Homo sapiens: one gene and its partners. The protein of the gene in region 1 interacts with the protein of each later gene in a pairwise test. Each region holds a gene or a part of one and is shown on either strand. Other genes may lie near its edges.

Region 1 (3,656 bases):
GTCTCTTATTGAGAAGTTTTTTGTCAAAAGATAACCGTCAAAAGGATTCATGTCCGGGTTTCATCACTGTGTAGTCCCATACTGTTTATCACTCCATCACAATTTGAAGGCTGTCTGAAATATCCATGAACTCCACTGGTAATTCATGGAGTTCAACTCTCTTAACCACCCTCCTCCCTGACCCATGATTTTTACCCTAACAGCCATGAGAGTTTCCAAAAATGTTATGTTTTACTTTTCTAGTGTATGTCAAAAGACATTTTGTACTGTTTTAAAATTACTATTCTTGCTATTCAAAGAATAAAAAGTATTGTTTTTCAGATGATGGGTGGATCATGCTATAAAATGGTAACAAAGTTTTGGAAATAATAGCTTTAGATTATTCCAAAAAGAAAAAAAAGAAAGCCTTTCTTGAGTATAAATTGTTTTTATGAGTTCAAGGTTACATTGGCCTCATCTTAATAATTAGCGATGATTCAGATATTTTGGAATAGCTTTATATTTTTATTTATTTTTCTTTTTGAGACAGAGTGCCACTAATATTGCCCAGGCTGGTCTCTTAACTACTGGCCTCAAGCGGTCTTCCCACCTCAGCCTCCTGAGAAGCTGGGATTACAGGTGCACACTACCAAGCGCGGCTTAGAATAGCTTTTTAGAAAACCTAAACTTTTTATGTTCTGCAACTCTCCTCATATTGAAACGTTCATGTCCAACTGTTTTTCACCTTTTCTAATGAAAGTATTCTCCAAAGAACAAATTGGAATGCTTCCAATTATAGTTGTTCCCCCTTATCCTAGGGGGACACATTGCAAGACTCCCCAATGAATCCCTGAAACTGAAGTCTGTATACACTGCCGAAGCCTAAGTATACCATGTTTTTTAGATCTAATAACCAAGATGGGCTGATAGCGTATACAGCATGGATACACTGGACAAAGGGATGATTCACGTCCTAGGCAGGAGGGGGCAAACTTTCATTTTGCTACTCAGAACATGCTCTTGCCCCATTTAAAACTTAGGAATTGGCCAGGTGCAGTGGTTCATGCCTAATCCCAGCACTTTGGGAGACTGAGGTGGGCGGATTACTTGAGGCCAGGAGTTTGAGACCAGCCTGGCCAACATGGTGAAACCCCGTCTCTACCAAAAATTAAAAATTAGCCGGGCGTGGTGGCACGTGCCTATAATCCCAGCTACTTGAGAGGCTCAGGTAGGAGAATCACTTAAACCTGGGAGGCGGAGGTTGCAGTGAGTCAAGATCACACTACTGCACTTTAGCCTGGGTGGCAGAGCGAGACTCCATCTCAAAAACAAAACAAAAAACTTACGAATTATTTATTTCTGGAATTTTTCATTTAATATGTTCGGACCTTAGGTAATTAAAACCACAGATAAGGGGGGATCACCCTAACATGAACGCTGTTTATTCTAGGAATGGAGAGCTGGTCACTTTACTAAGACAGTGCCGTAGAACAGAACTTGTTACTAATTCCTATGCTTAGGGCTTTGTTTTTTAATCACAAGATTCTAGCACCTCCCCTATCTTCCAGACTTGGATTTTGAACTTTAAAATTTTGAAGTAGTGTTGTGAATCAGTTGAATATTATTAACTTGTAGAATAATTTATGTAATTCCATGACTAGGTAACTGTATAATTCTGAAAACCTGAACAGTCAAGGCCATTTGGTTCACTTTGATTCTCAACTCCAGAATTAATATGAACTTTGATACAGAATCATTTTCTATTTCAGAAAGGCTAACCCTGTTTAAAAAGCATGTTAGCCTTACAACTTACCGTATATTTTCTACACTGTTAGTCCTAAAAATTTTATTGTGTGATGTGATTGACGTTAAACCTTAACATGGGAATGGGTTGTATGTGGGTTTTTTTGTTTTTTTGTTTTTGAGACGGAGTTTGCACTGTCACCCAGGCTGGAGTGCAGTGGCTTGATCTCAGCTCACTGCAAGCTCCGCCTCCTGGGTTCGCGCCATTCTCTTGCCTCAGCCTCCTGAGTAGCTGGGACTACAGGTGCCCACCATTATGCCTGGCTAATTTTTTGTATTTTTAGTAGAGACGGGGTTTCACCTTGTTAGCCAGGATGGTCTCAATCTCCTGACTTCGTGATCCGCCCTCCTCGGCCTCCCAAAGTGCTGGGATTACAGGCGTGAGCCACCGCGCCCGGCCATGTTTTTTGATATTCTGAATAAAAAGGATATAGCAGTTGGGATAGGCTTGGGTTCTTGTCCTTTATGTTCTTGTCCTTTCCTCATGATAATCAAATCATAATTAGAAATAAGATGCTAAGAATACAAAGGTGGCTCTATGTTAATACTGTATTGATAGGTCAAAGGAGAAAAAGCATGAGATCAATTCATTAGATACTGAAAAGTCTTTTGAGGGAATTTAATGTCTTCTTGCTTTCTTTATTAACAGAATAGGAATAAATAATAGCATAGGCATAAATTAAAAATAATGTAATTTTTTAAAATCTCAAACTAAAAATGGGAATCATACTTAAACATTAGCATTCCCAGGAGAGTTGGAGCAAGACCTCTGTGCCCACTATCACTCAACATTTCATTATTTAAGTCCTAGCAAGTGCAAAACAGAAAAGATGCATAAATATTAGAGAAGGAAAGTTATTTTTTGCAAATGGCGTATTTTTTATCTGGAAATACCAGAGAATCAAGTGAGAAACTTTGAAGAATAAAATAATTCAGTAATGATGCTTCCTACCCTAGGTTAATTAATATAAAGAAGAGTTAAATTCCTATGGCATATTTCTGGTAACAAAAACATCACTAAACTTTTAAATAAAACCCAAAACACTTCTAGTATTAAACATTTAAATGAGCTGGGCGCAGTGGCTCACGCCTGTAATCCCAGCACTTTGGGAGGCCAAGGTGGGCGGATCACAAGGTCAAGAGATGGAGACCATCCTGGACAACATGGTGAAACCCCGTCTCTACTAAAAATACAAAAATTAGTGGGTGTAGTGGCCCGCACCTGTAGTCCCAGCTACTCAGGAGACTGAGGCACGAGAATCGCTTAAACTGAGGAGGCGGAGGTTACAGTGAACCAAGATCGCGCCACTGCACTCCAGTCTGGCGACAGAGCGAGACTCCATCTCAAAAAAAAAAAAAAATTTAAATGATTTCTACTAAAAATTTTAAAAATTAGCATGCCTATGGTCCCAGCTACTCAAAGGCTAAGGTGGGAGGATCCACTTGAGCCTGGGAGGTGGAGGTTGCAGTGAGCTGTGATCACACCACTGCACTCCAGCCTCGGTGACAGAGCAAGACCCTGTCTCAAAAAAAAATTGAATGAATGTGAGCTGTGTATACATTTAAGAAAGATTAATAAAAAGATAATTATTTGCCTCCCTCTTCCAGTTCAGGGTCTCAATGGCTGGAGCCTTTCTTGGCAATTCAGAGTCCAAGTTGGGAACCAGCCCTGAACTGGACGCCATCCCAGCACAGGGTGCTCTCACCTACACCCACGCTCACAGACTGGGCCGCGTAGACACATCCATTCATGTGCATCTTTGGGATATGGGAGGAAACTGGAGTACTTGGAGAAGACCCATAAAGATGGGAGAATGAGCCAGCTTCACACAGACAGTGACCTCAGCTGAGACTTTTTGTTTTTTCTTCTCATC
Region 2 (3,656 bases), on another chromosome or scaffold:
AACATTATTCCAAGATACTAAAAAATAAACTATTCTAAGAATTAGAAGAAATTGTATTCCGATACTGAGGTTGGGTGGGATACATGAAAAACCTATGATAATTTTTTTGTGTTCAGTGCTGTGTAATGTTTCAGGCTGTCTCCCCCTGCCCTTTTATTATTGCTGTTATAAAAGACTCTAATAAAGTCTTAAAGATATCAGAGCTCTTATTTTCAAACTGTCTTTAGTTCTCCAAATTATATATAGTCCAGTTAAGGGGAAAAACCTGTCTGTAATTTATCTCATTGAGTACCAGTGTCCTGATTTTGATGGGAAGTAATTCCTAACCTCTTCTAGGGTGTTTCTCAAATAGGATGGGAAATGTTTATCTAAACTTTCTAGTGGTGTTAATTGCAGCTGTGGGAAGAGCTGGAACTAAGGTTATGCAGTTTGGATTTTTTAGCATAGAATTTTGAAATTGTGAGATAAACTTCATGTATTAAAGCCATTACATTTTTTAAAACAAGCATGATGTGAAAGTTAATGTGGCCTAGATCTAGCCTTCCGAATCCTTAGATCATTTTACAGGAATGAGACGGAGTGATTTATAGGCAAATTAATGGTTCTCTAGAGCCATGTATCACATTGTCGTTGGTTGAGAAATCCCCATCATGACTGTGGGCCTAAAAAGTACAGGTCATTCTAGTTTAGAGACTAGTAGCTTTGATGAGCTGGAGATTGCACTTAGTAATAATAATGTTTGTATAAAATTCACAGTTTATAGAGTGGCCTTCTTGTCTCCCTTAATCCTCCCAAGAACTTTTGGGGTATAAAAACACCAAAATTAAGCCTGATGAGCAAACTGTGTGAACAAAACTTAGCAGGAGCCTAATTGGTAGTGCGTGGGTTCAAGCACACATGCTGCATTTTTCCTTACCTCATACTGCCTTTACACATGAAAGTTATCGGATAGTCATTGGAGGGAATACATAGAAATACACTGTTCTCTTCTAGGATTTTTAAAAATTAAACTTCAGAAGAAAGGGGTTATATAAACCTCAATTCAATGGAATTCTTAAAAACTTCTTAATTTTTACGTTGAACAAAAGTTTTGGTTTGTGTAATATTTCTTACCACCTTTTTCCTTCAAGTTGTCAGCACATAGTAGGTGTGTTTTCTTTTTTTGCCACTGGTCTTTTGTTTTTTTGTTTTTTTGTTTTTTTTTTGGTCATTAAATCATTTTGCTCTGTTGATTTTTGTTCATTTTGCTTGGCTGCTTTTGTGGGTACTACAGATTAATTAAAAGGTTATTTATTAACCCAGTGTCTATTGCTGTAATCTTTAGCATGACAAGGCCCTAACTGTTGCTGCATAGTTTTATGACATGAGTTATTGCCCTGATCACTTTTAGTTTTTTGTTTTTTTAATTGCCCTCCTTGTAAATCTTATAGACGTGTCATGTAGTGGGGTGTAATCGGTATATGAACGGTAGGGTAGATGGTATTAGATTCTAATTTAAATAAATGAATGCCTTATGTGGTTGACCTTAGGACTCTGCAAAAACTTAAGCAGTTCAGATGAACAACATGCCAACTCAAAAACTTTTATTGCTTGGGGCTTCCTGTTTTCTGGAACTATGTATACTTTCATACACATTTTAACTCAGCAGTTTTGACAAGGACATTACTATCTCTGTGTATAATTTCAGAATTTCCTTTTAATATTTGAGGTAGAGAAGAAAGAGTATTATTATATTCTGTGCTACAAATGGTGATTGTACAAAAGGAAGCTGATACTTGTTTCTGGCCAGTACATGAGGACACTTTAAGGCCCTAAATCTTAACTAAAATGGGCAGTCTTGATTCAGGATTTATTTTAAATATGGAAGCTTTTTCTTTAGTGAGATGTAGACTTTTTTTTTGGATATAAATGCCAGCACCTAGACCAAAGTTTTGTTTTGTTTTGTTTTTTTAAGATAGGGTCTCTGTTGCCTAGGCTGGATCTTACTGCAGCCTTGACCTCCCAGCCTCAAGCAGTCCACCCACCTCAGCCTCCCAAGTAGCTGGGACTGAAGGCTCACGCCACCATGCCCAGCTAAGTTTGTTTATTTTTTGTAGAGGCGAGGTCTCACTATATTGCCCAGGGTGGTCTCTAACTCCTAAACTCAAGCAGTCCTCCCACCTCAGCCTCCCAAAGTGTAAACCAAACTTTTTATTGCATGGCTTAATTGTACCCATTGACCATGAGGAAGAAGAGTCCAGCACCAGGAATGGTTGTAACACCTCCTACAGGAAAGGTACTCTAGTTAGGAGCTGCAGACTTTCGTGGTTTTGGTCATGCTCCACGCCGAAGTCCCGAAGGGAAAGGCATGGATCCTGCCTGGTCTGGCAGAGGCAGGAGCTAGGGATAGAATGCATCTTGCTTTGCAGCATACCTGTGAAACCAGGTTTTTTCTGACACCTGGTTAGTGAAATACTGAAGGGGAGGAGAGACTCTAGGGTTTACCTCCAATATTGCTGAGCAGGAAAAAGGCCTTTTGCTTGTGGTAGGTAAGTAAGAGGAATGGAGCTGAGTAACTTGATAACGAGGCAGGAATCTGCTTTATGATGTGAAAACATTACCTTTTAAATGTTTGTTTGGAGCAATATCGAAGTTTAATTTTAAATAATTTACAAAAAAAGGATAAACTGTGTTAAGCAACTATAATTTATAGCTTATTTTTATTAATCATGTGCTCAAGTAATTAAGCTTGTGCTTCACATGATGTTAGTGCTTGGGACCAAAAGAAAGTGATTAAATTAATTACTACCCAAATTACAGGTTTTAGTGCTAGAACTAGTACCTGGATCATTTTCTAATTATTTTAAAATGCTATGTCATTTGCCTTTTACCTTTTCTTCTGGGATGTTTTATTCCTGCTTGAGGGTATTTTGGGGTAAGTTTGTTTACAAACTTGTTAAGACGACCTGCTAGCAAAATCAGTACAGACTTGGCAAAAACAGACTTGTCTCCTATTCACAGCATTCAAGAGGGGGCAGAAGGAACCCTGTTTTCTGTAGCATGACATGCCATTTCTGTTAGGTGTGGTTTTAGAGCAAATGAGACAGTTACTTTACCAAAAACTAGGTACATTCAGAGAACTTAGGCTTTAAATACCAGTTTGTTGCTACTCTTGCGGAAGGGGGAATATTTAAAGGGATTCAATATCCTGATGGTTTAAAGTAAGTGGTTTACAAATTGTTCTGATAATGAGTGTCTAGGCAGATCTCTGAGGGGACCTGAAATCTGATGCAGCTCTCCTTTGTTCTAGGTTATACTACTCCAACTGCCCCCCAGGCATACAGCCAGCCTGTCCAGGGGTATGGCACTGGTGCTTATGATACCACCACTGCTACAGTCACCACCACCCAGGCCTCCTATGCAGCTCAGTCTGCATATGGCACTCAGCCTGCTTATCCAGCCTATGGGCAGCAGCCAGCAGCCACTGCACCTACAAGGTAAGGCCATGGTGTCCTTAATGCGTCAGTCTTATGTTGGAGGGAAAGAAAGCAACTGTGTACACTTAAAATAATCTGTGGTTTAGTTCCTTATTAGTGGTTGCTTTCATATACTCTCAGATGTTCACTGTTAGTAACTGATGTGCTAGAACATACCACAGAAATATTCTGCATTTAACA
Region 3 (3,656 bases), on another chromosome or scaffold:
TCCCAATATTTTCTGACAAAACAGGAAATTACAACTAAAATTCACTATAATTTTTCCATCTTTCAACATTTTAAGATGCCATAGGAGTTTACTATAGGAGAAGTCAAATATGTAATTAAATCATACAAACTAAATGGAAAGGATTACCAAATGTAGTGGTCTTTCAACAGAATTTCCAATTTAATGGGTATCTCCTTTGTACTGTTGTTGAAAACCATTTTAGAAATGTTTACTACACTTTTCTCCTTACGTAAAGGTACAAGAGTATTTACTCTTCAATAAGGTAACTGATAATCATATATTGCCTTCAACTTAGTATTTTGAAAAATTATGCCACTCAAGCTAAAACTATCTGAGCCTGTAGCAAAAGTTAGGTTTTTAAATAATTTTATCAAATTGTTTCATTGTTCTTCTGAAAGCAAAAATAAATAAAAATCCAATTAACTGGAATTCTATTAAGTGTAAATTCACAATAAATGGAAATTTCCAGGAATTTTAAAGTAGAAAATCCAAATCAAATCACGGTGTTCTTACTTAATGCTGATACACTGGTGGATGCGACAGAAAGTCTCAAATATGAAGAGACGGGCATTTTCAATGAAATCCTCAAGACAAGCCACCAAGAAGAAGTCATTCACAAGCACCTATATGTACAAATACAACAAAAATTAATGATGCTGACAAGCAATTGCCTGAAACGTGAATCAAATACTTTATCTGCTTTATTTTTCCATTCTACAATCATGAGTTTTATACCACAGCACTTTCTAGAACACTGTGTTCAAATCTTTAATGATTTAAATAAGTAGTAAACGAATACCACAAGATAAAGACCTAAAAACTGCAATGTTTCTGATAACTTTAATAAAGTAGCCTTCTGACAACAAAGTTTGGTACTATCCATTATTCTACATAAATGCTCTGCAGATAATGTTATCTCTTCCAACTATTTAAAATAATTATAAATGGACTACAAGCTCGGAGTATTTCTACAATATTAAGTAGACTTAGAAATTAGAAGGAAAAGAATGCAAAAGGTGGCTACTATTCCACAGATGGTGTAATTAAGAGAGAATATTTTAATTTCAAGAACAGCAACCAAGTACCCTCTAGGTCTTTTAACATCAAAACCTAGACACTTAGCATAATGAATATACGCCAATATTTACCTTAATAATGCAATATATGACTACAAAAAAAAACACCAATTACCATATTGGATTCTAATTTTCTATTCCATCTAATGTTTGAAAATCATCAGGGAGGCCAGGTGCGGTGGCTGACGCCTGTAATCCCAGCACTTTGGGAGGCCGAGGTGGGCAGATCACAAGATCAGGAGATCGAGACCATCCTGGCTAACATGGTGAAACCCTGTCTCTACTAAAAATACAAAAAATTAACCGGGCGTGGTGGTGGGCGCCTATGGTCCCAGCTACTTGGGAGGCTGAGGCAGGAGAATGGTGTGAACCCGGGAGGTGGAGTTTGCAGTGAGCCGGGATCATGCCACTGCACTCCAGCCTCGGCAACAGAGTGAGACTCTGTCTGAAAAAAAATAAAATAAGAAAATCATCAGGGAATGGATATTTGCATGATCATTTTTTTCCTTAGAGAAGTAAGATATTTGTCAACAAATTGCCCATTTTGTGCCAAAATTTTGGTTCCAAGGGTGAAACTGATAACCAGTAACTTGTGAATCTGGTAAATGCAACTACATTTAGCAGTTAGAATTCTTAGTTTAGTTTCTTAAAACTTGTAAACTAATTATTCAAAACAACTATAAGTCTTCCATTTGCTCTAAAGGTACTTTAATTTCTACTAAACAATAAGAGACACCGCCGTTATAAAATTCGTAATTACAATGAATTGCCTGGTTTATCACAAATGTTAAATACAACCATGGGAAATATTCTAAAGATAAGCCCATCTATGAACCAAAATTAAAAACACAGTTGTTATTTGCAATTCAAAGTGACCTTGCCTGTACATATGAAATATTAAAAATATTCATTCGAGATTTAAGACATGAAATTATGGATATGTCTGTAAATTTAAATTACCCCCAATGTTTTAACAAACTCCCTCACAAAAGGGATAAACACATGGCAACAACATTAAAAAAGTCATCACTCTAGCACATTCCCATTTTAAGATTAATAAACACAAGCCATTTAAGCCATTTTAAGGTTAATAAACATGAGCCATTTAGGCCTTTTTAAGATTAATAAGCATATTTCCGTTATAATTACTTCATTACTTTAAGGAAGACACTGCAAGATTAACGTTACAATATCCAAAAATTTAAGAATAGTATTAGTTTATAAATAAAAATTCACACTTACTGATTCACATTCCCTCAGCTTTTTCTGAGCCCCATCAAAGTCAAAGTTAACATATAAACATTCAACAAATTCTGTAATTGGGTCTTTATATGTGTAAGACTCCTGTAAAAATAAGTCAACGGTCAAGGTAAGTCTGATTCAACATTGTTTAGCAGATTGCCCCAGAATATCCCAATCTTCTTGTTTTCTCCTTCTTTACCATTAATTTCTAGCCAAATTACCTAGCATCTTCCCAAAACAATTGTTCCTATCCTGATTCCAGACCACACCTTAAGCTTATTATGTCTTTCAAACCAAGTTCTCTAAAGTCTCATCCTAGAAGCATTCTGAAAGCTTTCAAATTCCTCTACTACCAAAAGTCTCCCTTGGTCAATAAACAGTAATAAACTTCCCCAATCATAAGGGTATTCATTCCCTACTGAATGACAATAACTTCTTTGTATTTAATACACTCTTAAATAAATATTTAAGTTATATTTCTAATCTACGGGTTTTGCTGACAAGCTCACTAAATATCAATCAGCATGGCTGCCTGAAACCTTTTGCCCAACTTGGGGTCTATTGAAACGGTATTGTATATAAAGTTCACCCATGTAGAATTACACAGGTAATGACCCCCACCTCCAGGTTCCAGATTTTCTTCACTCTTTGCAATAAGAGAAACACATACACATAATGTATATATTAAGTGTTCATCTAGCAGACAGTAATAATCATTCCTACCACATCCAACTTGTGTATCTTGGACTTAAGGAAAACAAAAGCCCATTTGAGGGTCTTCTCTTTTCTAAACTTCAAGTATTCCTTCCACCTATTTTTAAAAACGTTTGTACCTTAAGAACTAAGTCTTACCTTAGAAAAAGAGGTTAGACCTAAAGCTTAGGTATTTAAAAAAAAAAATCAATATATATTTTAGTTTTACCTGTTGAATAACTTTAACTAGATCTTTTAGAACCTGCCGACGTTTTCGAACATCCTTGTTTGTTATGACTGCTGTAGTCAAATAGCGAAGAATGTGTGGACACATTGTCTGAATTGCATTAAGATATCTAAGAAAAAATATAAAAGTTATTTAATAACTTACCCAGGGTGAGATAAAGAAAACTCTCGAGCAGGTCATTAGATTGTACTATTTCACTAGCCTAAGACTGCAAACACTTAAGAATGAGTATTATAAGAAAATCTCCTCCAAGGAAATTTAAAAACAGAATCCAGTTTCAGGAATCCAAATGAGGAGAATGCTAGCCACTATTTCTTTAATATGGGGTGAGATGGAAGACTCAATCAAGAGGCTAATTATCCTATTATTATTTTTGA

What was found.
Region 2: the proteins of MAPK1IP1L (region 1) and EWSR1 interact in binary tests that used the Homo sapiens proteins (3 or more experiments, as listed by UniProt).
Region 3: the proteins of MAPK1IP1L (region 1) and EIF3E interact in a two-hybrid assay, tested with the Homo sapiens proteins (one large-scale study listed by BioGRID).

What each region holds. Positions count from the first base shown.
Region 1 is NC_000014.9:55,054,627-55,058,282, forward strand, and holds part of MAPK1IP1L (MAPK-interacting and spindle-stabilizing protein-like), read left to right. Parts: intron 1-3,656.
Region 2 is NC_000022.11:29,274,741-29,278,396, forward strand, and holds part of EWSR1 (RNA-binding protein EWS), read left to right. Parts: intron 1-3,289; coding exon 3,290-3,476; intron 3,477-3,656. UniProt on the Homo sapiens protein: Binds to ssRNA containing the consensus sequence 5'-AGGUAA-3'. Might normally function as a transcriptional repressor. EWS-fusion-proteins (EFPS) may play a role in the tumorigenic process.
Region 3 is NC_000008.11:108,214,073-108,217,728, forward strand, and holds part of EIF3E (eukaryotic translation initiation factor 3 subunit E), read right to left. Parts: intron 3,389-3,656; coding exon 3,262-3,388; intron 2,442-3,261; coding exon 2,340-2,441; intron 645-2,339; coding exon 535-644; intron 1-534. UniProt on the Homo sapiens protein: Component of the eukaryotic translation initiation factor 3 (eIF-3) complex, which is required for several steps in the initiation of protein synthesis.